2 separate regions of the Homo sapiens genome follow, and region 2 is linked to region 1. The links come from fine-mapping of genetic effects on gene expression. Tissue or cell type: visceral fat. Region 1 holds a variant in brackets; the other region holds the start of a gene. All regions are shown on one strand. Distances are from middle to middle.

The links. PIP is the estimated chance that this variant, and not a neighbour inherited with it, causes the effect.
Region 2: it holds the start of RGCC, and the variant in region 1 is fine-mapped to the expression of RGCC in visceral fat (GTEx, PIP above 0.99). The same link has a PIP of 0.9 or more in breast and subcutaneous fat.

What each region holds. Positions count from the first base shown.
Region 1 is chr13:41,604,717-41,614,941 of GRCh38, forward strand. VWA8 (von Willebrand factor A domain containing 8) reads right to left here. Exons shown (of 45, transcript NM_015058.2): 39 at 6,860-7,016; 40 at 452-560. Among named protein-coding and RNA genes, the nearest start is that of MIR5006, 41 kb to the left of the region's middle. RefSeq lists an enhancer at 9,698-10,225. The variant T/C (reference allele first, on the strand shown) is at 5,940.
Region 2 is chr13:41,452,312-41,462,536 of GRCh38, forward strand. RGCC (regulator of cell cycle) reads left to right here and starts at 5,239. Exons shown (of 5, transcript NM_014059.3): 1 at 5,239-5,445; 2 at 5,974-6,159. The coding sequence starts at 5,397. RefSeq lists a silencer at 5,012-5,851 and enhancers at 5,425-6,102, 6,152-6,281, 9,529-9,628.

The DNA of each region.
Region 1 (10,225 bases):
TAGACAAAAAATCTGATTTTGTTTCTGATTTTAAGGAACACTCAGCCCCTCCTAAATTATTTGTGCAAACTGACCACAGAGCACAATTTCTAATTTGAAATCTCCAAACAATAGTCATGCTTAGGAAATACTGAAGTGTCTTAATATTTTCAGGAGGAGTAGCAGTACCAACTTGTTCCTCAGCATTGAGAGCTTTGTGAAACTGCAAAAGGGCAGGCAATGTGAAAGCAAGGGGAGGGCAGAAAGAGGAGGAGACAGGGGACATACAGAATACATACACTGGATGATCAAAAAGAAAGCCATGGGATAGTCCAGTTTTATGCAGACATTTTCACACTGAGACATTTTTTCGGACTGGCTAATTAGGGTTCAGATAATTTTCTCCAAGACTTTAGGAATGTGTCCAGGTTTGGGCCCAGGTTATTTTCTTGGTCCATAAGTAGAAGATTACCTGTAAATTATCCAGGATGATTCGGAGGGAGTGCACCTGTCGCCGAACAGCACCTGAAAACCTTTCATAGGTTGCAGCATCGTATTCACTCATTTGGATCTCCTTTAGCCTGAAATCAGAAGAGTATAAAAAGTTAACAGCTTAAATCACGTATATGTGGGTTTTTACTTCCATTCGCCTCCTGCTGGAACTTTAGCAAACTCCTTGGAAACTCAGATTCATGTTGAGGAGAAAAGGCAAGAAGTGATGTCTCCAGCTGTGCTTCCAGATTCAAAGGAGGTAACATCCAGTAGTGTGCTAGTAAATGGTTAACAAACTAGGACAAGAAAAAAGTCCTAGATTTGTAGTGTTTGCTGATTTCCATGATGTAAACATTGCCACCATGATCAGTTACAAGCTATGAACAGTGAGTTGGAAAAAAATGTGCACAATTGACTCTCATGAGCCAGTATGAATTGGCTTTGTGGTACACACCATTGCTATATCCCAAAGCCATATTGTGATGTTTGCAGCCGATCAGTTCATGTGGCAGATTCCTAAGAGGGTTCCCATGGGTTGCTTTTTAAGATCGAGATCATGTATTTGGTTGACCAAGATAACAGTTCAAGCCTAAAGAATGTAAGTTAATGTGCTGCTATGTATCCCTATGTGAGAGTTTTCTAAAATTGCTGACAGTGTAATTTAAACAGGACAATTGTATTTTAATATTATTGTGGCTTTGAAATTCTATCTTCCCAGTATGCTGCTCCTTTTTATCAGTTTTTATCATTTGCTTCACTGAAGCCCCACCAGCACACTAGAAGCTCCCCGTACACATCACATGCCCTGCAAGTGCTTCTCTCCCACTTGGAGTGTCCCTCCCCTGACTTTGCCTAATAACTCCCACTTACTCTTCAAGACTCAAGTCAATGATTGCCTCCTCCAGGAAGTCTGCTCTGATCCCCGGGTCTTTCTTCTGTGCTCTTATCTCACTTCATTCCTCCCTCAGAGAATTTGCTCTCCATGCTGTAACTATCTGCCTCCTGTCTCCCCAACTAGGCTCTATACTCCTTTAGGTAAGGGCTGAGTCTTTCTCATCTTTATCTTTACAGTGCCTAGCATGGAACCTAACATATAATGGGTGCTCAAAATAAGTAGAAATGAATGACTGAAATAAAAATACAACTCAGCATTACTTAAAATGCAGCATCTTAAACCGTCAGTAGAAAGTTCAGAGTGAACTCCCTTGGGTTTTACAGTGTTGTATCCATAATACATTAACTTAATAATACATTTCTATAAATTACTATAAATATAAAAGGTACTGATATTAGGACAAGGAATAATAAGTGCATATCTCAAAAGCCCAAGCATAGCATAATCTTCTAAACTAGTGTGTTATGTATATGCATGCAATGTTGGAGATATGAATCCTAGGTGTATTGCTGAAACTCTTATCTAATGTGTATTTTTTATCACCTTGAGCTAAAACAGAAACCTCAAATACTGAATGAGAATAAATGTTCTGTATTCCTCCCTGTCAGGTTGAGCACTGGGAAAAATCCATTCACCATGGGGGAGAGCGCCAGAGGCTTATTACAATTATGTAATGCTAGGCCTAGACTACCATGGGGCAGACTGACATTCCTGCCCTATCACCCCACTGGATAATACCCACTTAGGTTTCAAGATCTAGCTCAAAGTCCACATCCTTTGAAGTCTTGCTTGAGCCCTTGCATAAAGCTGGCCATTCCCTTTTCATGTGCCCTATACAGACATCTACCATGAAACTCGCATACTTTATTGCTTTAATAGATAGGCCTGTTGCCCTCTGTTATGGTGTTTTCAAATTTTTCTTTCCATAGTAGGAAATGTTTTACATTGAGATCTTGTATACACAAATGCATGTATGTATATAGGATAACTGAACCAAAAATTTAATGAAAAATACTTTTATTACATGGGATGTACTCTGATGTTTTCTATTCTATTCCTCAGGGAGAAGGACCATGTTCTATTTTTCCACTGAACTTCCAGTACCTACCACAATACCTGCCTGGCACACAGTGGCACTCAATAAGTGCTGCTGGATGGCACTTTGAAAACAGTGACTATTAAAAGGTAAATACAGACAAGGCCACTATAATATCTGAATGGTTGTATCTTGAGGTGACATGCCAAGGTGCCTTTCTAAATCTAATTAACTCTCAGTCCTGAAGAATAAAAAGAAATATGTGTATAGAACTTGACCTCCTGACAATACCTCTTGTATTTAGTTTCTGGCAGTCTCTGAAATCTCTCTATGACTTTTTATTAGATTAAGTTATGTCTCAAGTATCAAGGCTGACAGAAGCTGGGCACAATGAACAATGCAGGACATGCCACCTACCCCTTCATACCTAAACCGGTGTGTGTTTATATGTCAATATGCTTCTTCTCAAATAAGTGAGATTAGCACTGATTAGAAACAAATGTAGACACAGCTGTCTGTGGGGTGGGGAGGGGATGGAGGAGAGAATATATAGAAATATGTGATTAAATTAGCGCATTATGGATACGACTCTGTAAAACCCAAGAGAGGTCACCCAGCAAATGAACTTTCTACTTACAGTTAGTTTAAGATGCTGCATTTTAAATAATCCTGAGTTGTATTTTTATTTCAGCCATTCAATTCATTTTCAGCATCCATTATATGTTAGGTAATATGCCATATACTTCTATAAATATAAAAGGTACTGATATTAGGACAGGGAATAATGAACATACGTCTCAAAAGCCTAACCACAACACAATCTTCTAAACTACTGTGTGTGTGTGTGTGTGCACGCACACACACATGCAATGTTGGAGGTATGGGTTGTAGGTGTATACACAAATACAAACCTATATACACACATAAAAACACATATGTACATACATACACACAAACATATCAAGGAAGGAGCTAGCCATTTGGTAAGCCACCTCGAGCAGACTGATCTTTGCAGAGTGATCAGAATTAGCTTCAGTTATAGGCCTACCACTGGTGCGATCATGTTGCACCCAAAACACACCACATGCTGTTTTAATTATGAAGAAATCTGGAAACCATATTCCAGATTGTGTCGGTTTTCAGAAAGATCACCTACAAGGCAATCAAAGCTGATAAATTTTGAAAGATGATGACTGAAGCAAGGGATGTAGAAAGAAAAGAAATTTTAGCCTCTGGATCAAATGAGGTACCCATTGCTAATACTCTCAGGCCCACAAAACTAGCTGGAAACATATCTTTCTGCTTCTTTAACCCTGATCAAAACTGCAGGGCACAGCTGCTTCACATCCTAGTAATCTTTGTGGACTAACTGCATTTTGTTGGCACAGTATATTTTTAAAGGTTATATTTATTGTTACGTAAGAGTCTGGGAATTTTAGTTCTCATTTTACTTTTTCTTATAGGTCACACTTAAATACTATAATTTTGAATCAATTATAAGGAAAACAAACATAAGCTTAGATCCACTGTGTGAGGCTGATTAGTTTTGCAAATGGTAGTGGATGCAATCTCCACAGCTGGTGCCTACCCTAGACGCTTTTCTAAGTGTGTACATGTACCTCATTGTCTATTTCATTTGCTTTTCACTGGTATAATGTTTCTGTTCTATTTTATTCATGTTTTATGCTTGTCTCTCTCTGTTAGTCTGCCTGAGTTAATACATTCTTGATATGTAAGGGCTGGTATCTAGCTTAAAACCAGATATAAACAGATGCTATCAAAATGCTGTGTTGATGATGTCAGGAACCCACTTAGCAGCATTAGGCTCTCCAAGGCACTACACAAACTTTCTGGCTCACAGCTAGGACTGCCTAGTTTCAGCCAGTCTCTGAATTAAGTACTAAAGGATGATTCCATTACTTGTATGCACGTGTGTGTCATTCATTCCACAAATACATATGAAGGTTTGCTACATACCAGGTTCTTGGTGTAGGTCCTGGGGTTATACTAGAGCACAAAACAGATGGATGCCTGCCCCCCAGGAACTTACAGTCAGAGGAGAGACAACCAATTATTCACACAAATCACATAACGGGAAAGAGTGATAAGAGTTGTGGAGAAAAGGTACAGGATGCCATAAAAGCATCAATGGTGGGAACCGACCTCATTCTGCATATGCCTAAGTGGCAAAACCGTTTTAAAACCTATTATTTGATGATAGCGAGGAATTATTACTTTTTAAAGACTTAATAATAGTATTGTGAGTTTGTATTTTTTTGTTTTTATATTATGCAGATACACTTGGAAATATTGACAATGAAATGATAGAAGTCTTGGATTAGCTTCAAAACAAGCCAGCAGAGAAGACTAGGAGTAGAGCCAGAGTTTTCCTCTTGAAGTTGGGGGGTCGGGTCCATCGCATTCATTATATGTTCCTCTCAACTTTTATGTTTGAAAAGTTCCTAGTAAAAGGTTGAAAAATTTTCAGCAGCATTAAATGAAATATTCACCAAATGGGATGAAAGTCCCATTTCTACATGAAAGTAGAAAGCAACATCTTTCTCTTGGTGTTTTGCTGTGCCCCATCTTTCTCAGGATCTCCATGTGTTTCTATTTCTTTCTCTCCTTTCTCACACGCTTGGCCAACTCCTCTGTCTTTCAACCACCTTACGGTATTCTCTTTTACTTCAACTGAGACTCTTCTCTGCAGCATTTACTAGAGGTGTACATTTTCCTCATCCCTTCCCCATGTCCTCTCTTTCCTCTCTTACATCCGCTAAATTCATTTGCGTTAAGGGCACAGATGCCCCTTACTTCTTCCCCTGTAGGGCAATTGTCCTGAAGAGAACCACACTCCTTACTCCTATTATGGCAACAGGAGAAGGGCGTACATACTTGTGGCCAGGCACTGTTACCTTTCTGCCTCCCTGTGAACTATGTGTGTGCCAGAACACTCTTATCTACCTGTCCACTTGGGCAAAAAATTAGACTGAACAATTACTTGGCAGGTTTTAAGGGTGGCAACAACAGAACTCATTAATTGCGGAGGGGAGAATGACACATTTCCAATTGTTTAGTTCTTTTTCTAAATGGGTACTTTATAATTCATAAGAAATGCAGAGAACTTTCATTCTAACAAGACTGTTCACTACACTATTCTCTACCCTTTTTTGAGAGGCATAAACACTTTCATTCCTAACATAGTTACCTGTTCTCATAACCTCCCTGGGAGAAAGGGAGAGTGAATTTTATTTCCAGAAGAGCAAATTCAGGCACAAAGAGGACAGATAAACTGTCAACAGTCACCAGGGAAGCCAGCAGAAGGGCTGAGAGCAACACTCTTGCCTCTAGCATCAAGTGTGTTATTTACCTGCTGAACCCTCGAGGGTCTGAGCTGGCAGGCTTTCCTGAGGGTGTGGCGGCAGGGCCTGCATTCTTGTCTCTATTGTCCTGTACTGTTTACTTGCAGGATGTGGAAGCACAGCATGTAATGTAATACCAGATGTTCTACGTGGGAGGAATTTCATAACTCATACA[T/C]TTTAGCATGCTTTTTTCTAACTGCGCCCATCTCCTTTCATGCAGCACAAAAATGTAAATCTGTTTCCCAAACTACTACCAGGTCCTGGAATCTAAAAGGAAATACTGGTGGTTCTTTGGTATTTTTCACTTTTAGTTGAAGCACACATGTGGATGTCTAGGGTAACATCATGTGGATTCTTCTTATTTTTTAAATGGCTCCTATTGTAGTGGCCCAGAACAGCTGGGGAATGTCCGAGGGCCACAGGCTCACTGGCCTAGATTAAGGCCTCTACTCACTGATGAGGCCTCCCTATCCAAACTCACTGTCCCTCCTCCCGAGCTGGTACCCATTATCCTGAGTGGGCTAGCTGCCTCTCTCTTCCATAGACACTATGCTCATCCTGCCCTGGTGCCTCTGCTCATTTAGTTTTCCCTTTCTGAAATATCCTAGCTCTTCTCTTCCCATCTCTAAATCCTAGCTGAGCTCTGGCCCCACCTCACATCAGCCCACTAAACTTGCCTTTCTCTGCACTGCTGGAGGGGACAGCCTCCGCACCCTATGACTTTAGCACTTAACTCTGTGCATGTGTGTATGTATGTTCCCTTGTCCTGTCTCCGCACTAATCTGCAAGATTTCTGAGGGCAGGAAGGGACCATTGTGTAGACTTACCTGAATTCCCTATGTTGCCTAGGAACAGATAGACATGGATGGGGCGATTTGAGCTTTAGATTTTAAGGAGCCTGAGTAGAAAGAACAGGTGATTTTGTTTATTTGGCTGTTTCCGTTAGGGACGGGGATGGCTGTGGATTTCAGTTTGAGGTCCGAGTTGCTGCATGAGGTGGAGGTGGAAACACACACAAATCTAGGTTTCCCCACAGTCCATCATGACATTTCACCATAGCAGTAGTGCTGGTCTAAATGTGATGGGAGCACTGACCTCTGCTGGAATGCTCTCTGGCCCATCTCTCTAGCAGCTCTCTTGACCTCTTCGGGAACTGCATCTTTCTCAGCCTGAGAGACCTGGTACACCGTATGGCCTGCATCCAGCCGGTAAGGGCCTCCTTTGCCACCCAGGCCTGCCGTGTCTCTTCCCCCTGGAAGGAAAACGTGGAAATTCAGATGATAAATCTGAACTTGACCACAGAACAAAAGTTGGGTCATGGTTTTAGGACAGCCTTGTGGAGGATATTAATTGTACTTAACTAGTAATTAAACAGTCAAATTACCTTCTGGAAAAAGATGTATTCTCTTGTTTAGGATGCTTTTCCTTTTTCCCATCCATTAAAATACTACCTATATATCAAGGCTTACTCCAGCTTCTATGACACCTTAGCTAATGCTGCTACCTCATAAGGATCCATACTCTTGTGTACTATTTGTTATCCTTTCATATTTATTTTTCTCACCAACTATATGATGGATGAGATATTTTATTTACTTTTGCACTACCGCACCTATAAGAGTGGTTTGAATATCATAGATACTTAGTATATATTTGCTAATTAAATGAACAACTGTTTCCCTCCCTCACATATTACCTTAGTTTTCCTTAAAAAACCTAGACAGTTAAGCTATAAATACTGTTTTTTTCTGTTCTGCAAATTATAAAAATAATGCACAGAGAGGCTAAATGACATATTCAGGACCTCGTATCACTGGCTTAGCCAAGATTAGAAGCCAATTATTACACCAACTTTGACTTCTGGTTTGAACAATATATAACATAAACACCATCAGCTTTAGAACAGTCTTTCAATAGAAACTCAAGTTTACATAATACATATTACATATACATATTACGTTTTATAACATAACATTGTATGAACTGTTCATATTGTAAATGCCTGTAAGGCCAGGTAGGTCATATGATAAAAAGTGGTGGGGACATTGGCTAACTTAGGATTTACCTTGTCTAAATACATGAAAATTGAAATTATTTTAAAACACTACATGGACCAGAGAAAAAAACACATCTGTTGGCTAGATTTGGCCTTTGGGCTATAAGATTGTTACCCCTATTTAGGGGTAGATTAGAATACTAGTAACCTGTTTCTTTTGTTCATTCACGTATAACTTGAGAACTTAGAAGGGAATCCAATATTGGAGGGGCAGTATAGTATAATACACTGCTATTGTAGAGTATATTATGATATAGTTAAACCAGACTGCCTGGGTTTGAATCCTGGCTCCAACCCACCAGCCATTTATCTTTGGGGAACTACTTAACTTCTCTGTGTCTCAGGCTCCTCTTTATAAAGTGGGGATACTAATATTATTTACTTCATGGGATTGTCATGAAGCTAAAATGCTTAGAGCAGTATCTGGCACATAATAAAAGCCATATAATGGACTGCTTTTACTATTATTATTAAACAAAGCCTAGTTACACAGAATTAGGCAATTTCTAGTTTTATAAAGTGGAAAATTTGAAGGCTTTTAGACTTTGGGTAAATTATGTTACATTTTTCTTTCACCATCACCACCCCCACCTCCACCTTACCACTGAGCTTTAACTGGTCTAACAAAACTAAAACCAAGAACTCAATATGAACTGCTTTCCTTATGAAAGTCCAGGTAGGTCATTTCCTTTTGGGAAATACCATGAGAACTGCCTATTAATTACACTACTTTAATCTTTTGATTGGAACATATTTCACTTTTATTTAGAAATGGGTGGTGGAAAATTCCTTCTGGGATGTGTGTGACTCCCATTTCTTACTCATGGCCAGCCAATAGGCAGAGGGGTACAGTAACTGGACAGTGACAATGAGCTATAGGAGGAAAAGGTGTTTCTGGGATCTAACTCCTTTCCTACAGGAGGGTATCCTGAGTATGGGTGGATCATGAATTTGAGCTGAAAGCTTCCTAGGTGCTGAGATGTTATCATTCTGGTGAAAGGGAGAAAGTGGTGGAACCATCAGAAGCTGGTGTGAGTGACTGGCCACCTGAGTCGCAGGGCCCCAGGCAAAGTCACACTGGGGTGGAGCAGGAGGTGCTCTTCATGATCTCCACTTCCCAGAGCCTTTAATTTGTACTATTTAAATGAAAGTGCTTACCAGAGGTTCTAAGACTGCAGGGCATAAGCCTGGACATTCCAAACCACTTCAGAAGATAATGGGGAGGGTGGGCAAGGGAGGAGCATTGATGAAGAAAGGGGAATCAAATGACTTGTTGGGCCAGAGCTCAGTTCAAAGTAAAGAATTCTGAGGGAAAAGAATGGCAGAGAGAAAAAGAGAAATTGAAGCCAAGGAGCCTTGATCAATTGAAAACTAAAAGCCAGGTGAAACAAATGTAGCCTCAATCTGGACAGATACGTGAGCTAGTAAATTCAAGTTTGGTAACAAATAGGAATTTCTCCCCCAGAGTAGTCCACTGCTGGGAAACCACATCTGGCCAGCTCGTCCCACAATGCATTCCATATGGATTAAATCTTGTTGGCTTGACGCTAACTTCCAGATCAAAGGACATTTCTAAAAATAGCCTTACTTTAAAGCTGATGCTTGATGAATAAACAGAGTAGGCAAGAAGTCCACAGGCCTATTTGATAGCACATTGTCTAAGCAGAGAAACCCATTTCCTCCCGAGGCTGTCAAGGCCAAGAGGCACAGACCATCCTAAGGAAGGTGAAGTACAGAGCTCCTGCCAGCACTCCTCATGGTGAGATAAGCTCAGACAGTGCGCACACAGTCTGGCCCTATTCCTGTGGACTCGCAGATGTGTCTGCTCCAGCTGCCGCAGAGGAAAAAGGAAGACGGCAGTCCTGGGAACAATGCCCTAGTTGGGCAGCCAAGAGGAAGGAGTCGGCCATCGGTTTAGACTGCAACCAGCCTTATCTCGAAATCTTGCATCCTCAACGTACTTCGAAGATGTGGAAGACAAGGACCATTTCTTTTCAGTCAGTTGCTGAAGAAAGAATTTACTGTGGATTTCTGGCATGATCCCAAGGTCATGGAATTTAAAAGAAGGGATTAACACTTTAGTGAAAATATTCTTCATGCCAGGCACTGTGCTCAGTGCTTAACAATCGTAATCTCATTTAATCCTCACCACAATTTAAGGTAGTTCACACTATCCCCCTTTGACTGATGAAGCAACTCCAGGAGGGTCAGCATGTTCTTAGGTCACAGGGTGGCAGAGCCTGTGGGACTCCAAATGCCAGGCTCTTCACATGCCTTGATGTCACGCTGGGGCAGAGGGCAAGACAACAATCCAACTGAGTAATGAGGGAGGCTGAGAAGGAAAGCCCGTCTCTGAGTCTTCTCAGGGGCGATGTGCTGGCCTAATGGGCTTGGGAAACCTGGGG
Region 2 (10,225 bases), 150 kb before region 1:
CCCCCCGCGATGCGGGGAGTAATATCACCCCCCTCTCCCCCCCTGGATATTACGAGCTACGGTGGTCACACAGCCTCTTTACTTTATTGTGAGTAATATCTCCTCCGCCTCTGGAAATTACCAACCATATCTCAGAAGGGTGTACATCTTCTGCACTATTGGTAGTAATAACATCCTCTTCCCCCTGGATAGGAAGAACAAAATCACAGGAGTGTTTCTACCCCCAGCGCCATTGGGTGTAGTATCATCCTCTCCCACTTTGAAATTAGGAACAACATCACTGGGGGCTTGTCCACCCCATGTGATATTGAAAGTAATGTCATCCTCTTCTGTCCTGGATCATGGAAAAAATATTACTGGGGTGGTGTACACTTTCTGCGGTTTTGTGAGTAATATCATCCTCTCTGACTTGCAGTCTTAAGGGCAATATCACAGGGTGGCTGTACACACCCTGTGCTATTAAGAAGAATATTATCCTGTCCTGCCCTGCATATTAGGAAAAATGTCACAGAGTAGGTGTACAACTCCTGCGATATGGGAGGTAATATCATCTTTTCATCTTCTGGATAGTAGGAACAGTATCACATGGGTTTGTACACTTTCTGTGATATTGGGAGTAATATCAACATCTCCGCCTTTGACTATGAAGAACAATATCACAGAATGGATGTACACCCACTCAGATATTGGGAGTCATATCAGCCTCTCATCTCCATGGATATTGGGAATAATATCCCAGGGTGGGTGTACACCTCCTGCTGTATGGGGAGTCATATCGTCCTCCCCCATCCTGGCAATTAGGAACAATATCACAGGGTGGGTGTCCACAGCCTGCGATATTGGGACTCATATCACCCTCTCCCCCTCCGGATATTAGGAACAATATCACAGAAGGGTTGTATATTTCCTGCGATACTGCGAGTAATAGCATTCTCTTCTTCCGTGAATATTAGGAGCAATATCACCGGGTGGATGTACACCCACTGCTATATTGGGAGTAACGTCATACTCCACCCCCTGGATGTTATATTCGGATCAATATAACCGGGTGGGTGTACACCTACTGTGATATTGAAAGTAATATCATGCTCTCTCCTTTCCGTGGACATTAGGAACAGTATCACAGGTGGGTGTACACCCACTGCGGTATTAGGAGTAATATTAGTATGAATTATTACACCTTGATTATTAACATGAATATGAATTACCAATATTAATATTAAGAAATAATTGCTAATAAAAAGTTTTCAGATTATTAATATTAATATTATTAGGAGCTAATATTACTGTTTTCTAATGAATAAGATCAGTATCAGTTATTAATATCAGGTGTTATTAATAATTAATATTAATAATTTATTTTTATCATTGGTAGAACTATGTAATAGAAATTATGATTATCGGTATTGATTTAAAAATATCAGTTATTAATATTGATATTATTAATATCAATCAATAATTGATGTTTTAATATCAATCAATAATTGATGTTATTAATATCAATCAATAATTGATGTTATTAATTGCGATAAGTAATATTGCGACATTCCTCACAATATCGCAGAAAATGTACACCCCTCTGTGATGTTGTTCCGAATAGTCAGGGGTAGACGATGGCATTACTCCAAATATCGCACTGGGTGTACATTCCTTCTGTGATCTTGTTGCTAATATCCAGGCTGGGAGAGGATGGTATTAATCCCAATAATCCAGAAGGTGTAGACCTCCCCTGTGATATTGTCCCTAATATCCAAAGGTGGAGAGGAAGATATATCACCCAATTTCGCAGGGGTTGGACACCACCCCTGTGATATTGTTTCTAATGTCCACGGGTAGAGAAAATGACATAACTCACAGTATGGCAGGGGGTGAACACTCCCTCCATGATATTGTTCCTAATACTCGGGGGTAAGAGTATGATATTACTCCCAATATCATAGGGGGTGTACTCCCAATATCCCAGGGGGTGTATAGTATCCCGACCGGTGATAGACTCCGCCACGATGCGGGGAGTAATATCACGCCCCTCTCCTTCCCTGGCTATTACGATACACATCGCAGGGGGGCGGGCGACGCTCGCGACGCGGGGAGAAATATCAGCCCCTCCTGACATTACAAGCCACATGGCAGGGGATGGACACCCCCAGTGATGCGGGGAGTAATATCTACCCCCCCTTCCCCATGGATATTAGGAGCCACATCGAAGGCGTGTGGACAGCCCCCGCTGATGCGCAGAGTAATATCAACCTCCGTCCCTCCCTGCATGTTAGCAGCCACTGTGGACACACAGTGTATTTACGATATTTCCAGTAAGATTATCTTTTCTATTGAACCTTATGAACAAGATCACAGGGGGGTGTACACATCCTGCGATATTGGGGGTAATATCATTCTCTCCTCCACAGCATACTGGGAACAATATCACAGGGGCGTGTATTCCCCCTTTCTTATTGGGAGTCATATCATACTTGCCTTCCATATATTAAGAACAATATCAAAGGGGGGGGTGGACACTTTGACGATATTGGGAGTAACATCATTCTCTCTATCCCTGGATATTAGTAGCAATATCACAGGGGGATGTACATTTCTTGTGATATTGAGAGTAGTATTATTGTCTTCCCCACTGGATATTAAAAACAATACCACATGGGGTGTCAAACCACCTGCCAAATTTGAGGGAATCTTATCCTCTCCCCTGCACCCCCCGCGCCCCGGATATTACAGACAATAACACAGGGGTAATGTACACCCACTGCTTTATTGGGAGAAGCATCATCCTCTCCTCCCTTAGATATTAGGAACAATATCATGGGGAGGGGGTGTACTGCCTCGGCGATATTGGGAGGAAAATTATCCTCTCTTCCCCTGGATATTAGGAAGGGTATCAGAGGGGGGAGAGTGTACATTCCCTGTGATATTCAATGTAATCTTATCCTCTCCCTCCCAGGGTATTAAGAAAAATATTACAGGAGGGTGTACACCCCCTGCAATACTGAGAGTCATATCATCCTCTTTCGCTCTGGATATTAGGAACAATATCACAGGGTTGTGTACTCCCCCTGCGATATTGGGAGTAATATCATTCTCTCTCCCTGTGGATTTTAGGAAGAGTATTACAGGGCTGTGTACACCCCCTGCGCTATTGGGAGTAATATCATCCTCTCTCCCTCTGGATAGTAGGAAGAGTTTCATAGGGGTGTGTACACCCCCTGTGATATTGGGAGTAATATCATCCTGTCGCCCTGAGGAGAGAAGCCATTTCGCTACTGTCTCCTGTCTCTGAAGAGGAGGAGGAAGTAAAAGTTGGAAAACAACAGGAATGAAGTCAGTGTCAAGACCAGCCGGTGGCAATGAGGAGCCGGCCTGAGGTGAAACAATCAACCCCCGTGACTCTAAGTACATGTGCTCTCAATCCATCAAGACCCTTTCACGTGGAACCCCTTAAAGCTGTAAGCCCTTAAACGGGCCAGGAACTCTGTCTTCCTTCCGGGAGCTCGGCTCTTAAGACGCGAGTCTGCCGAAGCTCCCAGCGGAATAAAAAAAACTCTTCCTTCTTTAATCCGCTGTCTGAGGGGTTTTGTCCGCTGCTCATCCATGCTCCATTTCTTTGTTCCCTGACCGGGAATCGAACGCAGGCAGCAGCGGTGAGAGCACCGAATCCTAAGCACTAGACCACCAGGGGAACTTAGAACCTTGTGGGAAATAGATTGCGCACCATTAGAAGTGGGTTGGCCATCAGAAGGAAGCCTGGACAGGTCCCTTGTTTCTAAGGCGTGGCACAAGGTAACTGGTAAAGATACCTAGACCAGTTCCCATACATAGACACTTGGTGACAGCTGGTGCTAGAACCCCCACAGTGGCTGAGGGCATGCAGCAGCAATACTAGTAGCAAAGGGACAGATAGCTAAGGAAGGATCCCGCTCCACTCACCCAGGGAAATCAACTCCTGAAGTTCTGTTCGACCCCACATCAGAGGATCCATTGCAGGAGATGGCACCAGAGATCCCAGTGGTGTCCTCCCCTTAACAGGGAAAGAGGCTCCCCACTCTTGAGCCCACAGTGCTTGTGCCTCCACAAGACAAGCATATCCCTAGGCCACCCAGAGTAGACAAGAGAGGAGGACTATTCATATGATTAGTGGTCATTAACATATACTCCTTTGTGAGGTGTATGTTTCAATGTTTTGCTCATTTTTAATTTTTACCAGGTTGTCTATTTGTGATTACTTTGTAGATGGGTCTTTCTATATTCTGAAAACAAATCCTGGCTGGGTGCGGTGGCTCACGCCTGTAATCCCAGCACTTTGGGAGGCTGAGGTGGGCAGATCACCTGAGGTCGGGAGTTCGAGACCAGCCTGGCCAACATGGACAAACCCCGTCTCTGCTAAAAATACAAAAACTAGCTGGGAGTGGAGGCTGAATGTTTCACTCCGTTACATGTTAATTGCTCTACATTTAATTAGCCGTCTGTGGTGAGAGGCGAGAGGCTAGCGCCTAGCTCAGCGCACAGTCCAGGGCGTTCGCCCCCGCAGGCCGCGGGGCAGGGTGGCTCGTTACTCCGTGGACACTGCAAGGCGCCCTGTTCGCGCTGCGTCGACGCAGTAGTTTCTTCCCATAATAAACCCCTTCTAGATAAAGTCAGGCTGGCGGGAGCGCCCTGGACCGTAGTTCAGGCCCCCGCGCTCCGCGGTGGGAACAGTTCAGGACTCCCCCAACTCCTGCCCCTCTCGCCCCGACCCTCTCCACTCCGCCCGCCCACCATCTCGGAAGTCCCCTTGGGACAATGCGTAGGGGACCTCCGCGTCCCCGACACCCGACTGGGACACGGCCGCGGGCTCCTTCGTCCCTCACCGCCAGCCAGGGAGGCTCTGCATGCCCACGTCCACTTCACAGCCGAGGAAGCTGCGGCTCGCGGAGGTGCCTGGCACGCGGCGGGAAGCAGCAGAGCTCGCGCCCAGCAGTCAGCTCTGGTGACGCCGAGGACACCGCGTGGGCCGGGTTGTCAGGGCGCGGGGGCGAGAGGCGGGTAAATATTTGGGGCTGTAACCGGGGCTTCGGCGACTCCTCGTCACCGCGGTTCCAGGGCGGGCGCGTGGCGAGGGCGGTGCCTGGGGGCAGGGGCCTCCTCGGAGGGCGGCGGGGACAGACCCGTCGCCCCGGCTCCGCAGCCCCGCCCCGGCCCCGCCTCCGCTCCGGCCGCCGAAGGCTATAAGATCTAGGAACCCGAGCCGGTGGTAGGGCGGGCGCGGACCGTGCTGGGAGCGGCGCGGCTGGAGCGCAGCGCCGAAGGGACTGGCAGGGCTGAAGTGTGCGGGACAGCAAGCCCCCGAATAGCCCCGGCTGCCACCTCGCAGGACCCAAGGCCACGCGCGCCGGGCCCAGCTGAGCCGCCTCATGAAGCCGCCCGCGGCGCAGGGCAGCCCCGCGGCCGCCGCGGCCGCAGGTGAGTGCGGGGTCCGGGGTCCCCTTAAAGTCTCGGCTCTGCAGATGGCGGGTGAGAAAGGAGGGGCCCCGTGTCGTCCCTTCACACCCCCCACCCTTCCATCCTCCCCGGCGGGAACCTGTCCCCGGTCTTCCCGCGCGGGCGGCTGCAGCCTCCTTTCCGGCCCGGGCTGGCCCCCATGTCCCACCTTCCCTCCACCACCAGCTCCGCGCGCGCCCGGGGTTGGGGGGAGCGGCGGGGACAGGTAACCGGCAGCGCCTGGGGAGGAATCTGGCCGCGCCAAGTCGCTGGGTGACCCTGGGCCTGGCGAAGGCTCAGTTTTCTTGTCTGTAAAACGGACTTGGTAATAGAACGCACTTCGGGGGTGGTGGAGAAGATTACAAGGTAACAGCGACTGCGTGGCTGTCACTTGGCAGAGGCGCCAAGTGTCAGTTATCTTCGGGAACCGTGGCGGCCCCTCCTGGCCCTGGGAGGTGGTCCCGCTGCCCCCCTGACTTCCGTGCACTGAGCCCCTGGCCCTGCCCGCAGCCCCGGCCCTGGACTCGGCGGCCGCGGAGGACCTGTCGGACGCGCTGTGCGAGTTTGACGCGGTGCTGGCCGACTTCGCGTCGCCCTTCCACGAGCGCCACTTCCACTACGAGGAGCACCTGGAGCGCATGAAGCGGCGCAGCAGCGCCAGTGTCAGCGACAGCAGCGGCTTCAGCGACTCGGAGAGTAAGTGCGGCCCCCGCTAGGATGGCGCCGGGATCTCCCAGCTCCCAGGACCTGCCCCGCGAAGGCTGCGGCCTCAGTTTTCTTATCAGTAAACTGAGGAATGGTTTCCTGAAGCTCAACGCAGTAGGCCGAGTGGTGGCGGGGCCCCTGACGATAATCACGGGAAAGGTCGCTGGAGGGCAGGTTGGTTCACTTGCCGCCCACGGGTGTGTCACCAGGCAGGCGAGTTTAAGCAGCTTGTCCCGACTCAGCCAGACAGGACTCCCTGGACCTGCACCAGGCCTTTCCGCAGTTTCCCTCCTCTTCTCCTTTCCGTGCCTCTCCCCTCTCAGCTGTAACTTTGCAGATGTGGAACAAGTGCCAGTGGAATGAGGGGGCACAGTGGGGACATGGGAGGGCGCAGAACGGAAATATTCATGAAACCAGGAAAGGTTTCATAAGCCCAAACTGCTGTTCTTGGGATTTATGAAATAACTGCTTGCATTGTCTTCTGGCCCTTAGCTCTCAGACTTGTTGCTCCATTGCATGCAGTTATGAAAATCTTTGGCACTGCTGAGTTCAAGTATTTTTCAGCCAGGTCCTCCACCAGGCTGGAGGGGGAGCCAGAGAGCACATGGGCATGAAGGTGGTTCCTGGTGATCTTTCTCACAATGGAGACTACCCCAGGGTCTCTTTGTCCTGAACAACTTTGTCAACAACAGCAACAACAACAAAAACAACAAAAGAGACAGCTTTTTCCAGGAACTCACATGTCCTGGGAGGATTACAGGTACCTCAAACAGCAAATTAGGTGCCTTTTTAATATTACATGATTGTTGGTTTCAAATCCAGAATTGCTTATTGTTTTTCAAAGGGCAAAGTCAATTTTAAACTCTTCTGTGTTATTCTTCAGCCTTTAATCCTTAGATGGGTTACAGGCATGAATGTCACTCCTTTTGCTGCCCTTGACTCAGGACGTGAAAGTAATGGCCTTTCCGTGTGATTCTCTTATTTTGAAACCTGGAGCTCTTCCTTGTTCCTGGGCTAAGATTCGGGGCTAGACATGAACATGAGCTGCCCTTCTGCAAAGGGATAAATGCGCTCACCACCCTGGTCAGGGTTTGACTCAGGAAGCTGAGTTCCAGCTTGTTTCCTTGGCAGCACTGCCAAAGAGTTAGACCAAGCTGCAGCTTTTGAGGTGAAAGGGGATGGAAGAAAGTACTGTTACTTTTCCACTTAGAATTTTTGGACTTTGTTCTTAATGAATAGGTTCATTTTCAATTTCAAAGCAAAGTGTTAACATTTTTGAAATTTGTCTCAATTCTAAAGGCCAAACTTAAATATGTCTCCTCCTACTGGGGCATGGAGCAAGTTATTCATCAAATACAGATTCTCGCATGGAAAAGAAAGCTAGGATAGTGTGTCGCTGCTGCTCTGTGGCAAAGAACAGCTCCTTTCTAAGCAACAGCCTCACTCTACTAGAATAGGTCTGAGCGCGCCCATTCATGGCTGATTGCAACTTCCACTGGGTGGGATTTCAGATCTAGAATCTGTTTTCAGATGCCTTAAAGAGAAGACATAGAAACACATTCTTAACAGTTTCAGGGGAGATAGTTGGGATAGTTTGTAGTTTTGCTTAGGTTATATGTGTCTGTTTTCTGCTTTTGTTGTTAACGGACTAACCCTTAGTTTGGTGGTTAGAGAAGTGATGGGAAGAACATAAAGAAAGCTCAGATGACATTTGTCTTTGCTTTAAATGTGTAGTTTTTCTCTCACAAGGCTAGTCAGAAATATTGTTGGCAGAAGCTGTGTGTATCTAAATAGTAATTTCTTAAGGAAGCATAATATGTATATCTTAATTGCTGCCAAGAATTGAGTACAGACATTTGTTATCCTCGTTTGTCTGTTTAATGCTTTTCTATGGGAGAGAATGCTTAAGAGAGGTAGATACTACTGAAATTTAGCTCATCAAGAGGGAGACACACCAGGATAAGGATAATAACAGCAGCTCACTTTTAGCAAACGCTTGTTATGATGATGATGATGATTTATTAGCTGGAATGGGAACCATGTCTTCACGAATAGACTGAAGTCCTTTTGAGCCCAGATCACATGCCTGTTTGTCAATGATGGCTGTTTATGAAGGTGTCTCTTTGAGGTGGTGGTCATCTGGCAGGGTCAGTAGAGCTTAGATTGAGCCTTGTCAAGGCCCTGGGTGATGAGTGGGATTTAGTTTCTCTAGCTGTGAAATTGAAAGGATGCTATTTAATAGTGCTATTAGGGAGAAAATATTTGCTCTGTTGAATACTTTCAAAATATCATTACAATGTACATGCTGTGCTATACCATATAGATACATTGGAGCCAGTGTCTCGCATGAAAATATTTTGGATGAATATGTAAACCAATGTTACCTTTGTTTTTTGCTCTAGTTTTTACAGCTCTGTCTGAAGGTGCACCAACCTTACAAGGAAGATCAAACAGCAAGCCTGTTCTTTGAAGAATACTTCTTTATTATCATTAAAAAAAATTTAGGTTGCTTGCACCCAAAGGCAAAAAATAGCCATTCCTCGTACTGAAAGAAACAAGTTACTCAGATAGGAAAGAAGAACAGATATTTAATAAGGAAATATTCCTTCCTGTTCCCACTTTCAGGGAGGCCTCTTAAGACATGAAGAGGACCAAAATAACAATTGCAGTATAACTTCACATGGTGGGGTGGGGGGTGTGGAGTTCAAATGTGGTTGATCAAAATAGTGTTGTTACTTTCGTTTAGACTTGATTCCAACATGTAAAAAAATCAGGCACTTTAGTGGGAGTGATTTTAACTTCAGTAGTGAAAGGGCAATGCAATTAAGAGTTAGGGTAGTGTTTCTCAAACTTCATCCTCAGAGGTGCTTTAGAAATTGACTACCTTTGGTTTGAATTTATTTTTAGAAATATATCTTCTTTTCAGTATTTTTAAAACTGTAAAAGGTAAACCATGTTTTCTCAAATGTGTTAAATGGAATTTTAACTCATTATGTTTCAAGTTTTAACCAGTGTGTTGACTTTATAAGAAGTTTATAATATTAACTTAAACTTTAAAAGGTGGTATGCACTTATACCTTTAAGGTATTGGGGTTTCACATAATTTTTCCTTTGACGGGGGAGTGTTTTGCTGCTCAACAGAAAAGGTCTGAAGTCTACTGTGTATGCTAGGGTTATTATGATATTGTAGGACCATTTAGGAAATGAGGAACTGGCTTCTTTAGCATCAGCAAGACTTAGAACACCTGCATATCTTTGCTTAGGCTATTCTGGCCTGGCCCTGGGAGAGGGGACCTTGTGGGCCCTGGAGAACCAGCATGACAGATGGCTTATGTGGCTTAGAAGCCACTGAGGTAGAACCTGAACTTGTTCAAGCCATGAGAGAATAAGGCCAATGAGGAGCCTTCAGGGTTCCCTGGTACTGTGTTAGCAATTCTGCATGGGTAATGGATCTTGTGATGCTTGGCAAGGCATATAGAGGGACAGTGCGATCCCAGAAAGGGAGCTGGGACAACAGTGGAGAAGTTGAGGAAAGATGCTCTTTCTTATTTTGCCCCCCTTTGGCGAGGCTATCAGAATTTAGATTTTCAGGAGGAGAAGTCAACCCACACCCCCAGCCATTCCCTGTGGCAAAAGGGAGGTAGGTCCAAAGCTTTCTTTTTCTTGGTTAATTACTATAGTTTGCTTGCTTTAAACGTGTGGGATCGTTCTATATTTACAGGAGCCTTGGGTAAGGTTTACTGTCTGTGGTTTTACTTCCCCCTGGAGCAGCACGTTGACATGCGCTAACCCTAAATTACCTTTCTCCCAACCCCCCTAGCTAAAAAAACACACCTACCTTTTAAACAAGCCTCTATTTTGCAGCAGTGTTTCTCAGACTCTGTTAGTTGTATATTTCATATGCTTTTCTTTCTTTTGATGGTGCCTTAGAAAACACGGTCCCAGAATTTGAGGTTCCTGACTTCAGTACACTAACTAGACTTGCCAGGGATGTTTCTAATGGGAATTTGAGATACATGTGAGATGGTGCTTTAGAGCTGATTGAAGCCGATATTGT